Regions from separate parts of the Homo sapiens genome. Here all the other regions are linked to region 2. Evidence: fine-mapped expression QTL. A gene starts in region 2. Each other region holds a variant in brackets. All regions are shown on one strand. Distances are from middle to middle.

Region 1 (8,177 bases), 170 kb after region 2:
AATGAGGGAGCTCTGTCCTCAGCCTCATCCTGAAATCATCTTTCCTCTTTTCTGTCCCAGAGGACACATTTGCCCTCCAACCCTCTTAGGGGGGGTGGGGGATACAGACTCCTCATCACCACCCATGTTCCCAGTGACCTTCCAGGGATCCTGGAATTGGCCACACTCCCAAATGACACTTTCTGACCATTTATTACCCAGCCTCATGCTGGGGTAAAAATGATTCTTCTGTGTTACCTGTGACTGCACTGGGGATACAGGCCCCTGGCTTGGTTTCCATCTGTGTCCTAAGGATGATCCTCACTGCCTCAGCGCCCCCAACTCAAATATAACCACCCACTCTTCATGGCAAATCTCCATGCCAAATCTCTACAGAAGCCCACTTACAAGCACCCCAACCCATCCTCTCCTGGAGGACTTTCTTTCAGTGGCTTTTTTTTTTTTTTTTTTTTTTTGAGACAGAGTCTTGCTCTGTCGCCCAGGCTGGAGTTCAGTGGCGTGATCTCGGCTCACTGCAATCTCCACCTCACGGGTTCAAGCGATTCTCCTGCCTCAGCCTCCCGAGTAGCTGGGATTACAGGTGCCGGCCAACATGCCCGGCTAATTTTTGTATTTTCAGTAGAGACAGGGTTTCACCATATTGGCCAGGCTGGTCTCGAAGTCCTGACCTCAAGTGATCTGCCCATCTCGGCCTCCCAAAGTGCTGGGATTACAGGCGTGAGCCACCACGCCCGGCCTCAGTGGCTCTTACATTCAGACTCTTCCCTTTTCAGCCTAGACCCCCAGATCCAGTCCTTCAACCACCTGGTATGCCAGCACCTTTTCCTTCTAGGGGACAGCCTGGCAAGCACCCTATCCCTTCTCTATTTGGCTTGCGGGTGCCCTCTCCAAAGCAGCTACAGACCCATCTACCAAATGCACTTGGTGAAAGGGCCACCAAGTAGGAATTCCCTAACCCTTGAGAATACTTCTCTGTTCCCCCAGGCTCAGGGGAAGAGGCCACCTTCTCCAGAAGGCTGGTCCTACCAGCTAAGCTTGGGCTCCATCTCCTCCCACACGCTGCTCGCTCCTTTCAGCCATCTGCATGAGAGCCTGCTCAAACCCCAGTCACCTGTTCTCTCCCTCAAGGACAGGCCCTACAAAGGCTCTGCTTTTGCCATTCCAGACTCCCTGCTGCCCACTGCCATCTAATGCCAGCCATGCTGCTGATGCAGCTCAAAAGTCTCACAAGGGCTATTAGCTGCTGCTGAATCCAAAGGGCACTTGCAAGTTCTTATCGTTCCTGTCTTTACCTCTGTAGCTCTCAACACAGCAGACCCTCTCCCTCACCAGTGGCCTGCAGTCTGTCTGACCTGCCTTTCCTGGGCTCCTTTCCTCGCCCATGCCTTCTCATATGGAGCTTCTCAATCCATCCCAAGTTCTCTTCCTATGCGACACCACCTCATCCCTTCTATGCCTCAGCCCCCACTCCACTCCTGCTTCCAGCCCAGGACTTCTCCTCTTACCTCTGGTCTTGTGTATCCAATTGCCCACTAAGCAGACCCACTTCAACGACCCATCAGTATCTCAAACTCAACACAACCTAAACACACCACATTGCATCTTATGTGTCTGTTTCTTCTCAATCCCTAGCTAAGGCAGGGGCTGTGGCCTATCTAGCATAGGCCATCGGCTGCCCCACTGCTCTGAGGGGGCCTGTGCTGGGAGCTGGAGGCCTCAGCTGCCTGACGGGCCCACACACTGCCCCCCAGAAGGTTCCAGCAGAATCTCACCCTGGCGTCTGCTGTCTGGGCCACTTCACGGATCTTTTTCACCCAGTCCTGCAGCTCCTCCTGTGAGTCGGCAGCAACATCCAGGGACCAGTGGGCCACCGACGCCATGCTGATGGAGAAGACGAAGAGCCGGTTGTTCTTGCCCTCAGGACGGATGGCTGGGAGGGCGAGAGCAGATAACAGCTGGGAATAGACATCTCACCCCCTCCACCCCACTCCACACCGCAGGCACTGGCTCAAATGAGTTCTATCTCATCCCATTTCCTCCTTCCCACACCCCATGAGGGGAAGGACTACTCTGCTGGCCCATTTGACAGATGACGACGCTACAACTCAAACAAGTCACTGCTGGTTGTGGTGGAGCCAGTGTTCCAACTCAGCTCTGACTCATGCTTCTTCCTCAGGCCGTGTCTCCCTCTCCACCCCATCTCCAAGCCTCTGTCACATCCCTGTGGTACAACCCATTAGGCCTGGGGATGTCAGCCAACCAGCAGCATCAACTTTGTTCTGCTGATTCTGACGGGTTCCCCAGTGCCTGGCATAGGTAAACATGCAGGGGTCAAAGCTGACAGTGACAAAGGGAGCCCAGGGTGTCAAGGGGATGTCCAGAGCATGGGGAGAGCTTGGAGTGAGGGCAGACTTTGGGGTTCAGCCATCAGCTTCCTCCCTAGGAGCAGGAAAGAGATACAAAGAAGAATCTCACCCTAGGGAACAGTGGGCAAGAGAAACAGATGGGAGCTCACCAATCTGACAAGCCGGCACATCCAAGACCCCCCGCAGCAAGTCCCCTAGGGGGCTGTTCTCGTCCAAGTGCTGTGGGAAGCAAAGCCCACCAATGGTCAGCATGGCTACTGCATATGTGTGTGAGGGGATATCCGTGTGCATGGGACAAATACATCTTGTGGGTGTACCTGTGACTGCCAAATGTAGCACAGGTATATGGGAGACTACGTGCATGGCCACATGGGCTGTGCGACCAGCCCATGTGACAGGTGTCTGTGCATGCACGTGCGTGCTTGGGACTGTGTGATGGGGGCATGCCAAGGAGAATCTGGGAATAGGGAATGCTGTTACTCAGGTGGTTCTGGTCTTACCTCCCTCTCCGGCTCCAGGGCCACGGGGTTGACCATCTCTTCCACGTAGTTTGATGGGAACCACAGCTGCTTCTTCCCTCCGTAGTCCCCTCGCCACCTGTGGGAGCCACAGGGTGCTGACCTCCAGCAACCACCCCGAACTCCCATGAGGAGGGTATCCTTTGGTAGGGGTTCCCATGCCTAAGCCAGGGTGAGGCAGGCACTGCTGGTGCACACAGGAGACAAGCACATCACAAATGCATGTCTTTGGGGCCCCAGCTCCACTGGGGCCCTTGGACTCTGGGCCTACCACACCACTGGCTTACCAGCCTCCCTCTTGCTTCTCCACATTCTGGATGATGGCGCTCTTGATGAAGGTCAGCTCGTCCTCCCTCTGGGCCTTGTAGTCAAAGAGGGCTTTGACTGCACACTGCAGAGGTGAGAAGCACCAGTCAGAGCAGAAAGGCTCTCCCTGCCACTGCCAACCTGGGGCTTCATGTGCACACACACATGTGCTTGGGCTTCCCTGCCTGGGGTCAGGCCAGTGGGAGATGACACTGCCATCAACAGGCCCTAGTTATAGTTCTTGTTACTGCCCTGCAGGGAAGCTCCAGGACAGATATGATCAGAGAGGCAGGGCCTCTGCCAGTGAAATACCTCGGGACCCAGGTGGAACCTTAAGCCCCACCCTGGGCCACAGGGAGAACCTTGAATCCGCTCCCAGGAGTCAGGGCTGGCAGGCCAAGAAGGCAGGGTCTGCAGTGGCCCTGAGTGCCTCCCCGGGACCTGGAAGCATATGGGGCCTGGATGGGACCCTACCACTCATCTGTGAAGTGGAAAGAAAAACTTCCTTCCAGGTCCCCTGGCTGTGGAGGGGAGGGGGTGAGAAATAGGGCCCAGGCCTTTTTAGAGAAAAAGGCAAAACAAAAAAGAACCTGTGTAACAGGGCTCCATGAGGCCGGGGAATGAGTGGCCAGTGTGCCTCCCAGCTCCTACCCCGCTGCTGCCCAGGAAGGAAACAGGGGTCACCCACAGGAGCAGTTTAAAGGGTCACTGCTGACTTAAGGGGTAGGGGCTAGGGAGTGGGTCGGCCCTGGGAGACCTGCGGTCGCTCACCAACCAC[A/G]CATCTCTCACAACCTCTTGGGCCTCGGAAAACCACAACCACCACTTCTCCACAAAGACCACAGATGGCCCAGAACACAGAAATGAAGCCCCAAGCAGCTGGGGACCCTCCCCAGCTTCCTATGCCCAGAGGCCTGAGCTGTACCTTGAAAGTTGGCATAGGGTTTGCCTCTACATAGAAGCCAGGGTTGCGTCCCTCATACAGGGCCCCGTAGTCAGGCTCCTGGAAACAGGACACAATGGGATATGTTAATGCCCCAGAGCCCAGAGGTAGAAAGCAGCTACTGGTTTCTGGAGCAGCTTCCCTTTCCCCCAGTGCAGCAAACTTGCACCTGATCCACAGGGATCCTTCGACCTCAGTAGAGACGGCTTCAGAGGCCTCAGGCCCGGCCTCACTGTTCCCTTTCCTTTCTTCACATTCTTACATGTAAGGCCCAGCCCAGGATTCTAAAATCTCTCAGGTCCTAAATGCCCAAACTCCCAAGTATTTCTGAGCTATGTGCAGGTGGGCCCTTCACAGACTACCCATATTCAGTGCTTTAGTTCAGTGGCTTGTTGGTTCACTGCTGAGCCCAAAGTCAGGAAAAGCCTTCCCACTCCCCACATTCCTCCTGCCGCTCCTCTCCATCACTTGAGTCCCAGGTGCCAGTGGACAACAGGCCTCTCTCTCCCCAGCCAGCCCTGTCTACTGACGACAGCAGTCTCTCAACTGATCTTCTGGTCCTAGACCCCTTCCTTCTGTCCAGGGCCCTTATCACCAGCTGTGCTGCCATGGGTCCTGACTTTTTCCCTCACTGGTCTCACCTCCTGTGGCTCTGCCCTCCATACCATCCACCAGGCGGAGGCTCCACAACCACTCTTGGGTAGCCTCATCTCATCTGCCCTAGGACAGAGTCCAGGCCAAGCCCAGGTGGATGAGTTTCCACTGTGTGCACCTCTCCCAGTGTGAGCCCCAGAACCTCCTCACTCCACATCTTGACTCATGAGGAACCCTCTGCTTATGTGCCTGTCCCCATCCTTAAAGATGCTGCTCAGATGTCCCCTCCTGCAGACACCCTCCTGGTACCCACACTGTGGCTCCCAGCTGGAGTCAGGGGCCCTCCCACGAACTTCTACAACACACCAGGTCTTGCTGTTACACACATCCAGAGACTGGTAAGATTCTGGGTCTCTCCTGCCTCCCCTGCCATGCCCCGTCTACCACAGCCCCCTCACAGCTGTGCCAATCTTCTCCAGTGCCTCCTCGTTGATGGGATAGCGCAGCTTCATCTTGCGGTATAGCGGGTGTTTCTCATAGTAGCTGATGAGGTCAACAAGGCTGTCGAACTCCGAGTTCCCTAGCATCACTGTCTGGCCCTCTTGCTGGACACGGCAATGCTTGATCTTGCCCTCAGCCCTTCACAAGGACAAAACAGTCACACAGGGTCAGGGCAGCTCAGACCCAAGCAAGGCCCCACAACCCAGTGCCACACCCCTCACCGGAAAGAGATGGCATATGAGTTGGGTTCATTCCGCTTCCGCACCAGGAAGGCCCCATCACGAGGGACGCGCATTAGCATGTGCTCAGCCTGTGCTCTGGTCAGGCTCGCGTGGTACCACCTGAGAACAGGCAGAGTCAGGCCCGGCCAGCACCACCCATGGCCCTGCCCTGCCTTGTCCGCCCCCAGGCCCTTCCCTCACTCTTTGCTCTCGTGGGCGTTGGTCTGTGGGACAGGCTCTGAAAGTCGCATCTCAAACTCATTACAGCGCAGGGGCACCTGCTGGTAGTGCGTGATGAGGTCATAGAGGGAGTCAAAGACGAGGTTGTCTGTCAAGAAGAACTTGGGGGTCCCAGCATCTTGCCGGGAGTGGATACGGCAGTGCTGGACTTTCCCGTTCCGCCTGTGGAAGACACAGAGTGAGGGAGGCTGGGGAAAACAGGCCAGGGCCCCAAAGACCAAGTTCCACCCCAAATGAGGGTGGAACTCAAGGAGGGAGCCTCAAGGAGGGAGGCCAATCTCCTGAGGAGCTCAGGTGTGGGCAGTCACATGAACCAAAGGTGTGGGCTTCAAATGAACCGAAAAGGGAGGGGTATGGGGGGGGGGTGAGACAGAGAGTGTGTGTGTGTATGTAGGTGAAATTATGTTCCATGTAAAGCCTAATTATTGTCCTGGATCAAAGGCTCAAATGTTAACTGATTATCTCTGGGTGATGTGATGTCTGTGTACACACGCTGACTGAACATACGCATCTGCATGGGAAGTGTTACCAGAAAGAGAGCGTGTAGTCGCCCACGAAGGTCTCACTCTCTCGCACGAGGAAGGAGCCGTCAGGGGCTCCGGTCTCGATGCAGTACTCAGTAAGCAGGCGCTCAGCGATGTGACGCCCGTCACGCCCTGCCCCTAGCTTCCCATGGAACCACTTCTCATTGGAGTGCAGCTCTGTGCTGCTGCTGACCTGTCAGGGGAAGGCAACAGCAAAGATACTGTGACCCTGGCCCAGGCCTGACCTGGCCCAGCCCCCAGACCTGAGCTGGTTCCTCACCTCCTTGGGCTCCTCCTCATCCTCGTTGCCCTGGTCACTGCTGGTCTCCTCAGAGTAGTAGATCTTGCTGCTGGTCAGAACAAAGTAGTGGGGATACCATTCCTGGAACAGACCAAAGAGGGACTTGTGAGCCAGGGTCCTCACACCCACTGGCCTACCACCCCCAGCCTGGCCCAGTCCTCACGTGGTTCACAGGGTCCTCCAGGTAGAGGATGCCATTCTTGATAGAGTTGCTGATGTCGTTCTCAGAGTACATCATGGATGTAGGCACCTCCTCGTAGGCACTGCCCTCAGCCAGCTTCTTGTGCTGTAGGGGCAACCAGAACAGGGCAATGCAGACCCCAGTCCTCACCCCACCTCCTCACCCAGGTTTAGGCCCAACAGCTGAAGCCATGGCCTGGGCAAGGCACTGAGAAGTGTGGGGCTTCCGCAATAAGCCCGCCACCCCACCTTGATGAGGATCTTCCTCTTAAGCTGGTTGGGTGAGGGGAGCCCGTCGGCAGAGATCTCCACGGGCTTGGTGAGGAGTGTGTCCCCCAGCACCTTCTTGAAGTATTGGGCCATGTTTCTCTGCTGGGCAATGCTGCAGTGGTCCTCAATGGACAGGATGACTGGGTACCTGCGGGATGGGGGACAAGCACAGTGAAACAGATTCTGCAATTCTCTGGGTCTAAGTAGCCCCTCACAGTGAGCTGTTGGAAGCCAAGGGCCTGGGGGCTTCTTGTCTGTAAAAACTATCCCAGAAAAGAGGCAGGCCATAGCCACTGGTGGGGCAGAGAGGGGTTCTACAGCTGTGGCAGCAGTGGAAACCAAAGGGTGGCAACTGATGCAGTCCCGAGCTGGCCCAATTATGGAGGCTGCTCAGCAGTGCAAGAAAAATGTTTCACACCAAAGAGGCCAGGAGAGAGGAGAAGCCTCCAAAGTTAGCTGTTAGAGCCCTGGTGAGCTAAGGGAGACCAGTGACCACAGTTTAAGCAGTAAACAGAATTGAAGGAATGGGACACAGGGAACAGAGACAATCTTCTGGGCTGTGAGGGCAAAGGAGTTGGCAGGACACTGGCCTAAAGAAACCAGGGCATGTTTTCTGAAGATGAGAAGAGCATGTGTTCTACAGTCTAAAGGACCCATGAAGAAGAGAGTGGGCCCAACACGTAGGAAACAGAAAGTGTAACTTGGGAAGCAACAGCTCAAGCAGGGAGCAGGTGACGAGGAGAGGCCAAGAGGAAGGACAAAGATGAAAGGCTGAGGGAGAGGGGACAGGGCATTTGAGGAGTCTTTCTGCCCTCTGTCCCTCTAGAACGAGAGACCTGGAGCCAAGTTAACCCCTGGGTCATCCAGCCTCCGACTCACTCTGAGGCCACAAAGGCATGCTCCTTGATGGTGTGCAGGACATCTGAGAACTTGATCTTGGTGGTAAGGGTGTGCCCATGGTAAATAACTGGCATCCCATCCGGGCCGTCCCAGCAGTCCACTGGGGAGCAACATCACCATGGTCAAGCGGGCAGGCCTCCCATCTTCCCTCCCCCAGCCCTGGACCCCACGCACACTCAATGCAGCGACAGCCCATCCGCAGGCAGCGAGCATAGGCTTCCAAGGAGGACTCACTGGAGAACTGGTCCCCGGTCAGGTACCTGGATAGGCAAGGAGAGGCAGGTAGGTATGGTCAGATGGGCCCTCCTGGGGAAGA
Region 2 (8,177 bases):
CCCCACGTAGTTCATGGCTGGTGCTGGCAAAGAAAGGCAGTGGCTTGCACAAAGGTCTGCTCCAGCTCCTCCACAAGAAGCTCCTGCAGCCTGACCACACAGACCCCCAAGTTTACATTTGTGTCACGCCTTGGAGTGCCTTTGCACAGATGGCAGCAGCTGTGCGATGGGAGGTACACCTGTAGATGTGGGTCTAACCCCAGCTTGCCCACTGCCCTGCTAAGGGACCCTTGGGCAGCCGCCTCCTTCCCCAAGTGCCGATGTCCACATCTGTAAAATAGGGCACAAGGTAAAACAATACCCAGTTGCCTCGTGCCTCTAAATGCCATGACTAATGATAATGACCACAGTGTTCCGTGGGTACGGCTCATTTCATCTTCACAACAACCCTGTGGGGCTGGCTGAGCGGGTGTCATTATTCCTGTTTACAGATGAGCCAGCAGAGGCTCAGAGAGGTGGAGTGACCTGCCCAGAGCCTCATAACTATGAAGGAGGGAACCTGAGATCTGAACCCAGGTTTGTGTGGTTCCACTGGGATGGTCCAACTGTGAAAACGGAGGGGGTGGGAAGAGGGGGCAGCCTCATTAGATAGCAGGCCCAGGGCCCTGCTGGATAATGGGTGACTGTGCTAATGAGTACTCTTCTTTTCCCAAGAAGTGGGAACGAAGGAGCCTCCACTTTTCCATCTGAGAAATGGGCTCAGCTGTCTTGCTATCTGCTGGTCCTGTGAGTTGGAAGGTGTCTTGCTGGGCGATTGTAGCTGACTTATGGGGGACCAAGGGTGGGAGCACCCCAGGTACTCAAGGCTCTGTTCAGCCCCATTCCTGGGGTCAGATGCTCAAGGCAGAGCATCCCCTATAGCTGGGGGCTTAAGGCCCCAAACTACAAATTCCTTCCCAGTTTCCCTGGTGGGAAGCCTGTCCATGCACAGCCTGACCCCAGCGGTGTCCAGGCTATAGTTCTCAGACCCCAATTTCAACCCTAACCCCAGCTCCTCAGACCAGGGCTGAGCTGGCTAGGCGCTCAGACCCACAATCAGGCCTTGGGCTGGCCTCAGCCCACTGAAGCTGCTCCCTCCCCCAGCCAGACCGGTCTCTCCAGCTTTCCCACACCAGACAGGCCTGGGTAAGCCCAAAGCAGGAGGCTGAGGCGGCCTCAGAGAAAAAACAGGGCTATGATGAGAGCCTCCTCCAAGCTGGCACAGTGCCTGCCCCAGCAGCTTCAGGTGATCACCCCTGCCCTCCTGGCCAGGCCAGTGGCCTGCTGCCCCTCTGCCTGCCAAGACCCAGACTGTCCTATCTCTACAGAGCACTTTCTTCTCTCAGACCCTGGGTCAGAACCCCTGGAGGACAGCCTGCCATGCAAGACCACTTAGCAAAGAAGCTAAGTGACTTACCCAAGGTTAAGTGACTTTACAGGTGAGGAAACTATTCAAGCTCTTCTAAGCTGACAGGCCATAGAAGGGGTATAGGGAGGGGAGAGAGGGAGTAAAGACTCATATCCAGCTCTCCTGACTCTAGAGCATGGTCTCCTTCCACTCCATGCTTCCAAACCACCCAAGAGTTGGTTGCATGGCCCATGGCCACTTCTGCACAGCCCTGCAATGCCCTGCACTCAAAATGTGGTATGCACCAGCAACAAACATCAGCATCAGCATCACCTGGGAGCTTGTTAGAAACAGAAACTTAGGCCCAACTCAGCCCTACTGAATCAGCATCTGCATATTTTTCTTTTCTTTTCTTTTCTTTTTTTTTTTTGAGACAGGATCTCACTCTGTTACCCAGGCTGGTGTGCAGTGGCACCAAAATGACTCACTGCGGCCTCAACCTCCCAGGCTCTAGTGATCCTCCTGCCTCAGCCTCCTGAGTAGCTGGGACTACAGGCATGTACCACCATAACTGGCTAACTTTTAAATTTCTTTTGTAGAGACAGGGTCTCACTATGTTGCCCACGTTGGTCTCAAACTCCTGGACTCAAGTGATCCTCCCACCTTGGCCTACCAAAGTGCCGGGACTACAGGCGTGAGCCATTGCACCTGGCCTAGCATCTGCATTTTAACAGGATCCCGAGGTGATTCCTGCAGCCTTTCATGTGTTTGAAAGGAACTGCTTTTGTGTTCCCAGTCCACAGTCTACTCTTGGAAGAGCCTAAACGACAAGACCCCCACCTCCACAGCATTTCTCAGATAATGCCACATCCTGCCCATCCTAGGACATCGGATGAAGCAGTGGATTCTTTCAGTCTATGTCAGAGCGTCACAAACATAAGACACAATTCAAATTGCCAAAGTGAAAATGGGATGAAATGAAACTCCCTGGACCCCTAAGATGTCACTCAAATCAAGTTTATCTGCAAGGCACCTGCCATGTGCTAGATGGGACATTTCCACTTTGGTTTCTCCCTACCTAATGCCAAACTCTGAATACAGGTCTGGGGAGACAGAGTGGTGACAGACACTTGGTGGGCAGACCTCTAAACCACTGTGCCCAGGAAAAGCAGAGAGGACTCCAGAGGCTTCCAGGAATTAAGGAGCAAGCATGGGGAGGGGCAGAGCCGGGGTTGGGGCAAAGGTCCATCCAGCTGGAGGCCCAAGCCTGAGCTTTCTGCCCTATTAAGCCCTAGTGCAGTTTCTCAGCTTCAGCATTACTGTCCTTTGGGGCCAGATAATTCTTTGCTGGGGGGTGGGTGGGTGCACTGTAGGATATTCAGCAGCATCCCTGGTCTCTGCCCATTAGATGCCAGTAGCACTTCATCCCCCGCAGCTCCAGGTTGTGACAGCCAAATTGTCTTCAGACATTTTTAAATGTCTCCTGGGGGACAAAATTGCCCCCAGCTGAGAACCACGATCTAGTAGAAAGGGCCGAATAGCAGAGATGGCACCCGGGGTCCTACTCGGATCCAGCCCTGGAGTATTCTCAGGCAAGTAACTGGCTGGCCTCAGTTTCCCCTTCTGTGAACCAAGGCCTCAGTTTTTTAGACCCATCTCCCTCAGATCTAATGTCACGGGAGTCCAGAATTCTCTCCTCTCTCTGTTCCCCCCACTTCACCAATGGATGTCCCCCACATCTGCCTGCTCGGCATTTTGGGGGCCTTCTGTGAGCCCCCCACATCTGCCTGCTCAGCATTTTGGGGGCTTCCAGTGAGCCCCCCCACATCTGCCTGCTCAGCATTTTGGGGGCCTTCTGTGAGCCCGCCTCTGTCTTCACCTATCCCTTAGGCACCCCCTTTTCCCAGGACCCAGCTCTACCTCCTTGTTCTTTTCCAGACAGAGGAGAGCTCTGCTTGGCTCCCCTCTATCACCCTCCACCCACAAACTAACATGTCTAAAATCAGCCACTTCACTCCTCACACCTTCCCAGGAAGCCGAATACCCCTTAGGACTAGTCACTACCCCTCTCTCCCTCCCTAGCCCTCTGAATCTTCTCCCCCAATTTCCTGCTCATCCAGCCCCTCCTTTCTCCAGCTGTCCTAGGTTAAGACTTTATAACCAGATGCCCAGATCACGGGTGGCCACAGGACATTAGGAGAAAAGGCACCAGATTATCTGGGTGCTGATCCCCACTCCGCCATTTGCTAGCTGTGACCATGGGCAAGTGACTTCATCTCTCTGACCCTCAGTCTCAGCCTCCAAAATGGGAATAACATCAGGCACGTGTGAGTAACTAATGACTTTGTGTAAAGCCCTGGAATGCAATAAAAACCTGTATGTACACCTATCAGCAGCAGCATCATGACAGCCCCACTCATGCAGGCTGGTCCTGTGGGCACTGCAGGTCATACTCTGATGAACTGCCCCTGCCAGCAGTTGAGAGTTTGGACTTCTTTTATTTATTTATTTTTTTGAGATGGAGTCTTGCCCTGTCACCCAGACTGGAGTGCGGTGGCATGATTTTGGCTCACTGCAAGCTCCGCCTGCTGGGTTCAAGCAATTCTCCTGCCTCAGCCTCCCGAGTAGCTGGGACTACAGGCGTGTGCCACCACACCCGGCTAATTTTTTGTATTTTTAGTGGAGACGGGGTTTCACCGTGTTAGGATGGTCTCGATCTCCTGACCTCATGATCCACCCGCCTCAGTCTCCAAAGTGCTGGGATTACAGGCGTGAGCCACCGCGCCCAGCGGAGTTTGGACTTCTTAACTTGGCACTCAAGGCCATGCACAATGGTGGCACCACTATTTGCAAAACGAGCATGTGCACTCCACGTAGGCCTCACACCCCACCTTGGGGATGTTCACAGGCCTTCCAGGCTAGACTACAACTCTAGCACAGGGAAGCCAGAGCAAGCTGCCCTAGGACTAGGCTCTCAGCCCTCGGGGCTCCCAGGTTTGGGTGGATGAAGGGTGTGGCTCTCCACCGAGGACCAGAGGGAGCAGGAGAGTAAGCACTCCTAGTGCCCCAGTAGAGAGAAAGCGCCACCCCAGCCCCCAGCAGCTACAGCATCTGATCTGCCCAGTCTCAGGGCAAGCAGGGCAAGGGCCAGTCACTGTTTTGCAACTGAGGACACTGGGTACCAGAGAAAGTGGCTGTCCTCCTCAAGGTCACACAGTCAGGCTGGGGTAAAGCTGGGCCAGCCTCCCCTGGGAGGTTTCGACGTCTCCTCTCCAGACTCTACGTTCTGGGTGTCCAGGGGGCCTGCAGCCGCTGGGCCAGGGAAAAAGGGACAAAATGAGGCCAGTCCCTCCACCCCTGCGTCCCCATCTTACAGCTAGGGGTGGACCCAGGCCCGCGGACAGGAAGGAAGGAATGTAGGATGGCAGGACAGATGGGCAGGGCGGGAGGGGAGAGGGTCATCTCTTCTCCCCCCGAGTTGGGCCCTACCTGGGGAGCTGCCCACTGGAGCTCCTGGACTCAGAGCCGCCGCCTCTACCTACGTGCACAGGCTCCACAGGTGAGTGTCTTCGGCCCTCAGTCACTTGGCGCTTCCGGGTCCTCTAAGACAGGGTGAGAGCACGGCTCCACTCCTTCTACGATCCTAGTGCGGCCTCCACAGGCCCCAATCTGCCCAGGCTCCACTCCCTGGAAAGACCCCGCCCCTGCTCCGATCCCCGCCCAGGGCGCCCTTTGGCCTCGGAGGCGGGGGCGGGGCCAGACTTCATGCCCCGCCCACCAGACCCCGCCCCAAGTCCCTGTGCCACCGCCTGCCCCACCTCCAGAAAAGTGTGGATTTCGGAACGGGGCGGACCTAGCTCCTCCCAGATTTGCTTCCAGCTTGCTGTGTGATCTTGGGTGAATTCCTTCCTCAATTTGATCCCATTTCCTGTTTTGTCAAGGGGGAAAGCCGCCTTGCAGGATTTTAGAGATGACATGAAATGACTTTGCGCGGCTCCTGGCGCTCAAACGTCCCCTCCTGGGGGCAGCTTTTCCTGAACCCACCCGTATCTCCCAGACTGGACAGGCCCCTCGCGTCATCTGTTCGCATAGCCCACAGTTGTAATTTCATATTTGCTTGAATGACTACTTGATTAATGTATATCTCTTCATTTAAATTTGAACTCTGAGAGCAGGTCACGTACATCCTTACACTCCAGCGCTTATCAGTACCTCGCCTGACAAACAGCAGGCGCTCCATAAATGCCCGCACCTTCATTCCATCCCTGGGACGTTCTGGTCGAGCGGCAGCGGGCTCAATACTGACACTGGCCAGCAGGGGGCAGGCGGTGATCAGCCTTCTGGCCCAGCCGCGCTCCCTCCCTGTCTGCAGGCACTGCGGGAGGGGACAGGTGAGCCCAGGTGCGCCGAGGCACGCGGAAGGTGCATTTACTCTCGTGCCTTGGGCAAGGCCCGGGCCGGGAACGGCTTTTTCCTCTTGGATCTGTGGCTCGCGGCTTTCCTGGACCAAAGACCTTTCCGACGCCCTATGGCCCCTGCAAAGAAGCTGCCCTGAGAAGGGCCTGGAGATGAAGTAATTTGTTCTAAAAGAGAGAGGGCACCGAGGAAAGGCTTGGCGGAGCAGCAACGGCGACGAGCCAGGCTTAGAAACGACTGGGCGGTGAGGAGGAGAGGTAGCTGCCATTATTCTGACTCAGGGTGACAGAACCTGTTTGGAAGTGACTGGCCTCAGTTGTCCTCATTTTGGCAGAAGTCATTTAGTATCAGTCCTGATCCCAGGTAGTGTCTGGCTGCTATCTCAGAAGAGCCCTGTTGGGAGCAGAGCTATGTCAAGGTGGCCAGGAGGGCAGCGTCATACATACCATTTTCTGTAACATCAGGAAATCCCTGAAGGGAGCCCGAGAAGGAAGGAAGGAGAGGTCACAGGTTGGGGCTACAGATGCCGAAATCAATTTACCTCTTTGAGCCTCAATTTCATCGGCAAAGGTGGTGATAAAAGCTACCTTGCAGGATTCTATTGTGAGGATTTACAGGATGAATTAAATAAGTGGTTCTCAACCTTGACTGTGTGTTAGAATCACTGTGCCCTAGACGAATACTGATGCCCCGGATACTGGGAGTTTAAAAACCTCTCCAGTTGGTTGTAATGTACAAACAAGGCTGAGAACTGCTGATCCAAATTAAATGCAGAGCACAGCGCCAGGGCACACACTAGGCATTCAGGAATGTTTATCACATATTTATTTTTATTTAAAAAATTTTTGTGTCACACATTTTTAAAGATGGAGCACAAATTGTTTTCATTGTTCATTGTTAGAGGAAAAAAAGTTGATATAAAGGTTGTTGCAGAAATTGCATTTGCGGCTGGGGTGAGGTGGCTTACGCCTGCAATCCCAGCACTTTGGGAGGCAGAGGTGGGCGGATCGTCTGAGGTCAGGAGTTGGAGACCAGCCTGGCCAACACGGTGAAACCCCATCTCTGTTTTTTTGTTTTTGTTTTTGTTTTGAGATGAAGTCTCGCTCTGTCACTCAGGCTGGAGTGCAGTGGCACCATCTCTGCTCACTGCAAGCTCCACTTTCCGGGTTCACGCCATTCTCCTGCCTCAGCCTCCTGAGTAGCTGGGACTACAGGGGCCCATCCCCATGCCCAGCTAATTTTTTGTATTTTTAGTAGAGACAGGGTTTCACTGTGTTAGCCAGGATGGTCTCGATCTCCTGACCTCGTGATCCACCCACCTCAGCCTCCCAAAGTGTTGGGATTACAGGCGTTAGCCACTGCGCTCGGTCCCCCGTCTCTATTAAAAATACAAAAAAAAAAAAAATTAGCCAGGCATGGTGGTGCACAGCTGTAGTCTCAGCTACTCAGGAGGCTGAGGCAGGAGAATCACTTGAACCGAGGAGGTGGAGGTTGCAGTGAGCTGAGATGGCGCCTCTGTACTCCACCCTGGGTGACAGAGCAAGACATTGTCTCAAAAAAAAAAAAAAAGAAAAAGAAAAATTGCATTTCTGACAGGCTCGTTTCTGGAACTCTCAATCATCTGGGATTTGGTGATGAGGGTAGGAGAAGAAAGGCAGATAGAACAGCCTCTGCTAGTATGACTTGTTCTAACACTGAATGGAACTGAATAAGGCAGAGACTGTCCCACTCTAGCTTGTGGTTGACATCACCATCTCCAGGGCTTTCTCTGAGGGTGCAAGCAGCATGGACACTTGTGTTTGCCCATTTCTGGGGTTGAAGGTGGAGGCCATTTTTTCCTCTGCTTGGGTATACTCATCGGATGAGCCTATATCACTGGCAGCTGTTTGTTTCTTCATTAATCCAAGAATGCAGGTGGTACTTCCTTCTTTACAGAATTTGGTAGCTTATGTGTTTTATTGTTTTTTTGTTTTGTTTTAGACAGGGTCTGGCTCTGTCACCCAGGATGGAGTGCAGTGGCACAATCACAGCTCACTGCACCCTTGACCTCCTGGGCTCAAGCAATTCTCCTACTTCAGCCTCTCGAGGAGCTGGGACCACAGGCATGCATGATCACACCTGGCTTTTTTTTTTTTTTTTTTTTTTTTTTAGAGACAGAGTCTCGCTCTGTTGCCCAGGCTGGAGTGTAGTGGCACAATCTCGGCTTATTGCAACCTCCGCCTCCCAGGTTCAAGCGATTATTTGCTTCAGCCTCATGAGTAGCTGGGATTACAGGTGCCTGCCACCATGCCTGGCTAATTTTTGTATTTTTAGGAGAGATAGAGTTTTGCCATCTTAGCCAGGCTGGTCTTGAACTCTTGACCTCATGATCCACCCGCCTGGGCCTCCCAAAGTGCTGGTATTACAGGCGTGAGCCACGGTGCCCAGCCACATC
Region 3 (8,177 bases), 300 kb after region 2:
TGCAGTAAGCTGAGATCGCGCCACTGCACTCCAGCCTGAATGACAGAGCAAGACTCTTGTCTCTCTCTCTCTCTCTCACTCACACACACACAGACACACCTCATATGGCTAATAGCTACCATATTGGACAGCACAAATATAGGACATTTCCATCATGACAAAAAGTTCTACTGGATGAAATTATCCAGGAAAATACTCTGCTTCCTAGCACTCTCCACTCTGCCTATTGCAGCCCAGTCAAGGACTTTTCCCTACATGGTACTGCACTATTCTGTGTGGTTCCCAGGCCTGGCTAAGCTGGCTATCTCAAAGCAGCCTGCTTCTGCACAGAACCTCTGGAGAATCAGGCCCTCAATGAACACCTGCCCAGAAAACATTTCAACTGAAGTTATTAGTCTGCCGAAGCATAAGACAAAACTGAGATAGAGCAATTATTTTAAGCTTCGGGAGCAGGGCAAACAAATCCCATTTTTACTAACTACCTTTGCTCTCTTAATAGAAGACAACACTGGAATTTTTTTACTTATCTCTGAAAGTAATTAACTAGTACAAGACCCTTAAGATGGGCAATTGCATTTCTTTTTTTCTTTTTTTTGAGAAGGAGTTTTGCTCTTGTTGCCCTGCTGGAGTGCAATGGCATGATCTTGGCTCACTGCAACCTCCGCCTCCAGGGTTCAAGCGATTCTCCTGCCTCAGCCTCCCGAGTAGCTGGGATTACAGGTGTCTGCCACCACGCCTGGCTAATTTTGTATTTTTAGTAGAGATGGGGTTTCTCCATGTTGGTCAGGCTGGTCTCAAACTCCCGACCTCAGGTGATCCGCCTGCCTCGGCCTCCCAAAGTGCTGGGATTACAGGCGTGAGCCACCACGCCCGGCTGGGCACTTGCATTTCAAATACTGCTCTATAACAAGTCACATTTTCACAAGGACATCCCTGCACTACAAATGCATCTTCTTTCCCAAGAGGCAGAACTTAAAAGGGAAAAAGGACTTGTCTAACCTGAAAATGTATCTTCTCAGGCCAGCTCAATTAGGGCAGGCCCATTCCTGTAGGCTTGTCCTCCTTTGCTTCCATTAAGGAACGCTTAATGCCTGGGAAGAGTGAGAGTGACTACAAACCTCTGGCCTACGTGCGGATCCACAGCTCAGCCTAAACTGCCTTTGTTTCCAATGGTCAGGGGCCTCCAAACACACTAAGACCATACTTTGTCTGGCCATAAAGACTTTAAGTGTGCTGACACATTGTTTCATGTATCCTATTACTAATTCAACCAAGGGACCTTCTTTGTCTAGACAATTCTCATTGACAGGGCTTGAAATGCGCAGGCCATTCTCTGGGCCACTAGCTGTAGAAAGAATAAGACTGAACACACCTCTCCTACTGAAGTGGCATATATTCAGTAGAAATACAAGAAACCTTTCTGGTGTTAATCATATAACTGCTCCTTAAATTTTTTTATACTCCAGAAGATCCTCCCCCGATTATGAATTACTCCAACTTCACAACTGTAAGAAAGCACAAGTAATGAACTCCATACATGGTTCCTTGTGAAAGAACAAGGAATACTGCTTAAGAGGTTGAATTACTACAAAACTGGTATCTTGCTCTATTCTATTGGTTCTGAAACTTCAGTGCACATCTGATCACCTGGTAGACACTCATTAAAACCCAAATGGCTAAGACCCTACTCCCAGAGTTTAAGAGTCAGTAGGTATGGGTGAGGCCCGAGAATCTGCATGTCCAACAAGTTTTCAAACAATGCAGTTCTGCTGATCAGGAAACCACACATTGAGAACCACAGATGACACCTGAACAATATGTGTTTGAAATGCTTGAGTCCACTTACATGAGGGTTTTCTTTCTCCTCTGCTACTCCTGAGACAGCAAGACCAAACTCTCCTCTTCCCCCTCAGCCTACTCAACAAGACAATGAGGATGAAGGCTTTTATGATGATCCATTTTCACTTAATAAATGGTAAATATATTTTCTCTTCCTTACAATTTTCTTAATATTTCCTTTTCTCTAGCTTACTTTATTGTGAGATCATAGTATATAATACATATAACATACAAAATGTGTGTTAATTGACTGTTTCTGTTATCAGTAAGGCTTCTGGTCAACAGTAGGCTATTAGTTAAGTTTTCGAGGAGTCAAAAGTTATAACTCGAATTTTTGACTGCATAGGAGTCAGCATCCCTAACCCTCGTGTTGTTCAAGCGTCAACTATACTGCTTTATTCAAATGCTTCCATTTCAATCAGTACCATCAGGAGCTGAAGTCCCCAACTAATTTAATCTAAAGGCAGTGAGCTCCACAGACTGGATTTTCAGTATTCCACTAAATTATTCCACTTACTTTCTAAAGTCCTGATTTAACCATCCTAGTATTAGTATGAAAACAAACCCTGCTCATTGTGCTCTGCTTGTCACCCAATCCGAAAAAGTAACATCAGAATTAAATGGCTTGTTAAACACTGAAGTAGGAGAAAGGATTAGGATTCTGACACACAGTAAAACAGCTGCAAAGGCAGTTAACTATATCTGCTATTTGGTAAATGCTCACTGAAAGGTAGAAACTATAACTTAGAGTGAAGTATCAAGCTTTTATAAACATATATTAAAAAATACTGTTCTGGTCCTTTAAAAATATCCTGTAATCTTGGCTGGGCACGGTGGCTCACTACTGTAATCTAAGCACTTTGGGAGGCTGAGGCAGCCGGATCACTTGAGGCCAGAAGTTTGGGACCATCGTGGCCAACATGGCAAAACTCCGTCTCCACTAAAAATACAAAAATTAGCCAGGTGTGGTGGTGGTGTGCCTGTAATCCCAGGTACTCAGGAGGATGAGGCAGGAGAATCGCTTGAACCCAGGAGGTGGGGGTTGCAGCAAGCCCAGATCGTGTCACTGCACCCCAGCCTGGGCGACAAAGGGAGACTCTGTCTCCAAATAATAATAATAATAATCATCATCATCATCATCATCACCCTGTAAGCTTTATACCTTAACCTGTGGAGTATCGTAATTGAATGAAGCAAAATATAGATCTTTAGCCAAATAAGATAGTAAAGTTCAGATAGATCAACTTCTCCAAAGGAGGTTATGGGTCACCTGCATTAGTCAGAATCATTTGGGATTGTTGAAGATACATTAAAAATGCAGATTTTCAGTACCTTCCACTATAGAATCAACTTCAAGGTGTACGAGTAGGAATATGTATTTTCACCAATCATCCCCAGGTGACTTTTAGGCATATCAGCTTGAGAAAAACAAGGAAAACTTACTGTTAAGCTCTCAAAAGTCTCCCACTTGATCTTCAACCAGCTGGGGGGAGAAAGGAGTTTGCACTTCACAACTGAAACATTTGGTAAAAGCATCTGTATTGACCATACAGGATGAAACAGTGCTCTTAATTTTTTTTTTTTTTTTTTTTTT[G/TTG]AGACAGGGTCTCGTTCTGGGGCACAGTAGGGCAAACATGGCTCCCTGCAGCCTCAACCTCCTAGGCTCAACTGATCCTCCTTCCTCAGCCTCCCAAGTAGCTGGGACTGTAGGTGCACACCACCATGCTTGGCTAATTTTTGTTATTTTTTTGTAGAGACGGGGTCCCGACATGTTGCCCAGGCTGCTTTAGAACTCCTGGGCTAAAGCAATTCACCCACTTTGGCCTCCCAAAGTGCTGGCCACTTCTTAATAAGGAAAACACATAAATACAGACTACTACAGAATGAAATATTAAAAGAGGATAACAAAAGCTCAATGCAAGTCAGAGAAAAGTGGTTACACTTCTGGCTTGGGGTTACGTGGTAATGCAGGCAGACTTCCCTAGAAAGGAAATGGAGTATCTGTGACTATGCCATCAATACTCAAACAGGCTCTGAGATGTTTAGAACTCTCAAGGAGTTCACAATACCTAGTGCCTTCCTAAAAATATGTAGTAAAATGGAGAAGTATTGAGTATACCTAGCTAAACCTTATGAAATTCTAAAGACTAAGAGGCATTCATTCATTCCAGGGTATAAGAAATACTACTTAAACAGAACCTAACATGGTCTTTTTTTTTTTTTTTTTTTTTGAGACGATGCCTCGCTGTCTCCCAGGCTGAAGTGCAGTGGTGCCATCTCGGCTCATTGCAACCTCTGCCTCCCAGGTTCAAGTGATTCTCCTGCTTCAGCCTCCTGAGTATCTAGGACTACAGGCATGCGCCACCAGGCCCAGCTAATCTTTTGTATTTTTAGTAGAGATGAGGTTTTTTTTAAAAATCAAATTTCCAATAAATGCACTTCTTAGGGACTTCTCAGTGTGGGGTGCCTGGCCCTGGAGCACTTGTGGTTTGGAAATCAAGTGTAACAAGCCAGTAGTTATAAAGACTAACAAATTTGTGTTCCTTCTCCTCCCTTTCCTCTCCTGGTTAAGTGGAAGCATTAAAAATTAAGAAATAGATCCTGAGCCACAATCAATTCCTAAGAAGCTACTGTTTCTTCATTTCTGGTATTAAATAGTAAGAACTACTTACATTGCATCCATTCCTGCAAAAATGCACTGACTGTATGATTAAGGCACAGTAAGTCTAACATTTTGTCCCGATCACTTTTCTAGTATTCAAACCACTGTAAGTAATACCACTATGTACTCTGCATCTTTCTCTGAAGAGCTTTAACAGCTTTTATGTATTACCCATATCAAGATACTTCATGGATTAGGAAGGGGCAATAATATTTCAATAGTTTCATAAAATTAGTTTCCCAGGACTTTAAGTAGAGTTTATTCTCTAAGATTTTAGTTCTTCAAATATGTGAAGATGGTGATTTTAAATACTTTATTTCAATCAATTCAGTTCAAGGATTTAAATTATTTCAAATACTTGAATTAGCTATTGTCACATGATTTCTCACACAGAATGTGACCATCTCTAGCCATTCCGACAACCTACCTGCTCAGGAAATGTGAAAACTATTTTTCTTTTTTTTTTGAGATGGAGTCTCGCTCTGACGCCCAGGCTGGAGTGCAGTGGCGCAATCTCGGCTCACTGCAAGCTCCGCCTCCTGGGTTCATGCCATTCTCCTGCCTCAGCCTCCCAAGTAGCTGGACTACAGGCGCCCGCCACCACGCCCGGCTAGTTTTTTGTATTTTTAGTAGAGACGGGGTTTCGCCGTGTTAGCCAGGATGGTCTCGATCTCCTGACCTCGTGATCCGCCCGCCTCGGCCTCCTAAAATGGTGGAATTACAGGCATGAGCCATTACCAAGCCCAGCTGAAAACTATTTTTCTAAAATTCATGCAACATGGATGTCTGATACAAAAAGATAACAGGAAATAAATACACAGAACTTAAATCTTTTTGCCTATTTCAGGCAAAAAAGTTTAATGGGTATATAGGTATACAAAAAAAAACCATTTTTTGTAACATTTTAAGAAATAAGAGTTTGGAAATCTTTGGAAATCCAAGGTCCTAGGTCTCCAATTTCTTTAAGGGGGGAAAAACTCACGATTAGGACTAAATGGAGACGTCACTCTCTTGCACTGATAGTGAAATATTAACTGCCAGAAAGTACCTCCAGTCCCCATTCATGTTGTATGACAGCAGCCTTTGTACTGAGGCCTAATGAAAAATCTCAACAGAGGAAGTGACTGTATATACCTACAACGTACTAATTTCAAAGTTCATCCTGATAGGCATGTGGGTTTGTCTTGTTCATCTGTGTCTAGTCACAATATTCACTTTCTGAATGTTTGTATGAATGAATATGGCAACTTAAACTTTTCCATTTACAATTAAACGTGAAAATTTTAGCTTCCTAAGTAGATGCCAAATATTGCACCATCCCAAGTGTGAAAGGAGAAAGTTAATCACTGCCAAAGATGATGATGATTTTTTTTTTTTTTTGAGACAGGGTCTCACTCTGTTGCCCAAAACGGGGTAGGTACAGTGGCATGCTCACGGCTCACTGCAACCTCCACCTCCCGGGGCTTAAGCAATCCTTCCACCTCAGCCTTCTAAGTAGCTGGGACTACAGGCATGCACCAACACACCTGGCTAATTTTTGTATTTTTTTTGTTGAGACAGGTTTTTCCCATGTTGCCCAGGCTGATCTTGAACTCCTGGGCTCAAGTGATCTGCCCATCTCGGCCTCCCAAAGTGCTGGGATTATAGGCATGAGCCTCCAGGCCTGCCCCAAAGATTTTTAATCCACAATTTAAGGTATGAGAAACAAACAAAGTGGTGTGTATGCAGCAAGCCTTGTCACTGGACAACTGAAGTTGCCGCAAAGTCAAAGCAAGTCAGTACCCTCCTGAGCCAGCCTTTCTATGATTTACAGCAATAGTATCATACTCAATGCTCCCTAGTGACCCCTCCAGCTTGGTTAAAATTTCACAATAGATATATGTGCAAATTTAAAGAAAGTAAAGATGTTCCCTTTGTACAAAAGCCTAATAAAGCAATTTCTGAAAAAGGTGTTGTTGTTGTTGTTTTTTAGCATTGGCAAGGAACTAAAAATTCTGTTCTAAGCTTCACCTTTCATAAAGTAATCCTCTCATGCTCTTTAATCCTCAATGTTGTAAGGTAAGTATTAAACCTACTTTATAGGTGAAGAACTAAGGCTCTGATATTAACTTGTTCAAAGACCTAGCCATTGAGCAGAAGCTCAAGAACTCGAATTTAAATTCCCTTTAAGTCTCTATTATGGGGTGGTGGGGATGTAGAGGGGGTTGGAGGCCGGGAGACTATTCGCATTCTGTATCAGAGGAAAACGAAAGAAAAAGAGACCAAAGCTTTGAAGACTTTTAAATCCAACCCTATTGTGGGCACATTCCTTGTATACTGAGGGCAATGGAGCTACAGAGCATTAACAAATACTCATCTTCCCAGATTTTTTTCCCCATATTTTATGAGCTATATTTTTCCTGATATGTTTATCTTTGAAGACTCTTTAAAATTAGGCCCTATTCCATAATTTCTATACAACAAAATTATGTCCTCCTGCCTACTTTTAATTGAATTTAAGTCTGCGCCTGTTGTGATGCTTCTGTGATAATCCTTTTGCTGAATGGCGTAAGATCTCTACTAAGATCCATTTGGCTTAAACCTAATGAACACTAGTGAACACATCCTTAAATGACTTTTGTTTATTTCCTTTAAGTAACACTTCCAAAAAAACAAATTCAAGGCAATTCAATATTCAGCATTAGCTAGACTTATGAGCCATTACTGAAATTTCTACTGACTTTATCAAATTTTTTCATGGAATCTCCCAAATGCCTATACTCACGCATAACTGTTAACACGGCATTTGGTACTAAATTCTCACACATAAGCTTTATTATATTATTTAAGGTATTCTTATTCCCAAGAATTACTATTTCAAAGAAAACCAAGTTGGTCACTTTAAGCAACTATTTGAATAAATGAAAAACTGAAGTAATTCTCAGGTGCTTTGAGAGTTCTCTGTTTAATTTAAAAACGTTTTGGGGGAGAAGTAAAATAGTGGCCTTTGAAAAAATATGCTGACACAAGACATATTGAATTTTGTGGTTTTAAAAAATTAACAAATAATGAACTTGGCATTTTATTAAATGCATCGAAAAGGGTCAAGTTATTTTTAATAGAAAATCCATAATTCTATTAAATGGTTGAGAAATTAGTCACATCAATAGACTTCTTTCATTTCTGAGCCCATCTTCTGTACTGCTACAAGTTCCTTTGGCAATGACCACTTTGCTGTAAACATTCTTAGAAAAGTAGGAATTAGGCTTGGCGCGGTGGCTCATGCATGTAATCCCAGCACTTTGGGAGGCCGAGGCTGGTGGATCACGAGGTCAGGAGATCGAGACCATCCTGGCTAACACGGTGAAACCCTGTATCTACTAAAAATACAAAAAATTAGCCAGGCGTGGTGGCGGGCGCCTGTAGTCCCAGCAACTTAGGAGGCTAAGGCAGGAGAATGGCGTGAACCTGGGAGGCGGAGCTTGCAGTGAGCCGAGATTGCGCCACTGCACTCCAGCCTGGGTAACAGAGTGAGACTCCATCTCAAAAAAAAAAAAAAAAGAAAAGTAGGAACTAGATATACAATTGGATCCTTCTCAGCCCAAACCTAGATATGAAGACACCTTTTACTTTACAGTGACCGCTTTGTAACTGGAAGACATCAGTGTAGGCTCTGCTGATTCAATTAGGTAAAGACTCA

Which allele goes with the higher level. Positions count from the first base shown, and alleles are read on the strand shown. Sizes are in standard deviations (SD) of each study's normalised expression. Not every link is listed here.
For the expression in Th1/17 cells of the gene that starts at base 4,998 in region 2, TTG is the high allele of the variant in region 3 and G is the other (large effect, 0.94 SD a copy in Schmiedel 2018).

What was found.
Region 1: its variant is fine-mapped to the expression of LPIN3 in whole blood (TOPMed, PIP above 0.99).
Region 3: its variant is fine-mapped to the expression of LPIN3 in Th1/17 cells (Schmiedel 2018, PIP 0.95).

The regions. Positions count from the first base shown.
Region 1 is chr20:41,163,865-41,172,041 of GRCh38, reverse strand. PLCG1 (phospholipase C gamma 1) reads right to left here. Exons shown (of 32, transcript NM_002660.3): 11 at 8,036-8,121; 12 at 7,841-7,961; 13 at 6,941-7,109; 14 at 6,675-6,797; 15 at 6,491-6,592; 16 at 6,216-6,403; 17 at 5,648-5,848; 18 at 5,447-5,566; 19 at 5,183-5,363; 20 at 4,113-4,190; 21 at 3,172-3,275; 22 at 2,867-2,963; 23 at 2,516-2,585; 24 at 1,773-1,930. MIR6871 (microRNA 6871) reads right to left here and starts at 3,019; the gene lies at 2,964-3,019. The variant A/G (reference allele first, on the strand shown) is at 3,969.
Region 2 is chr20:41,337,642-41,345,818 of GRCh38, reverse strand. LPIN3 (lipin 3) reads right to left here and starts at 4,998. Exons shown (of 20, transcript NM_022896.3): 1 at 4,817-4,998; 2 at 1-23. The coding sequence starts at 15. RefSeq lists a silencer at 5,017-5,176 and an enhancer at 5,337-5,386.
Region 3 is chr20:41,036,694-41,044,870 of GRCh38, reverse strand. All of the region lies in intron 2 of TOP1 (DNA topoisomerase I), which reads right to left. Among named protein-coding and RNA genes, the nearest start is that of TOP1, 12 kb to the right of the region's middle. The variant G/TTG (reference allele first, on the strand shown) is at 3,434.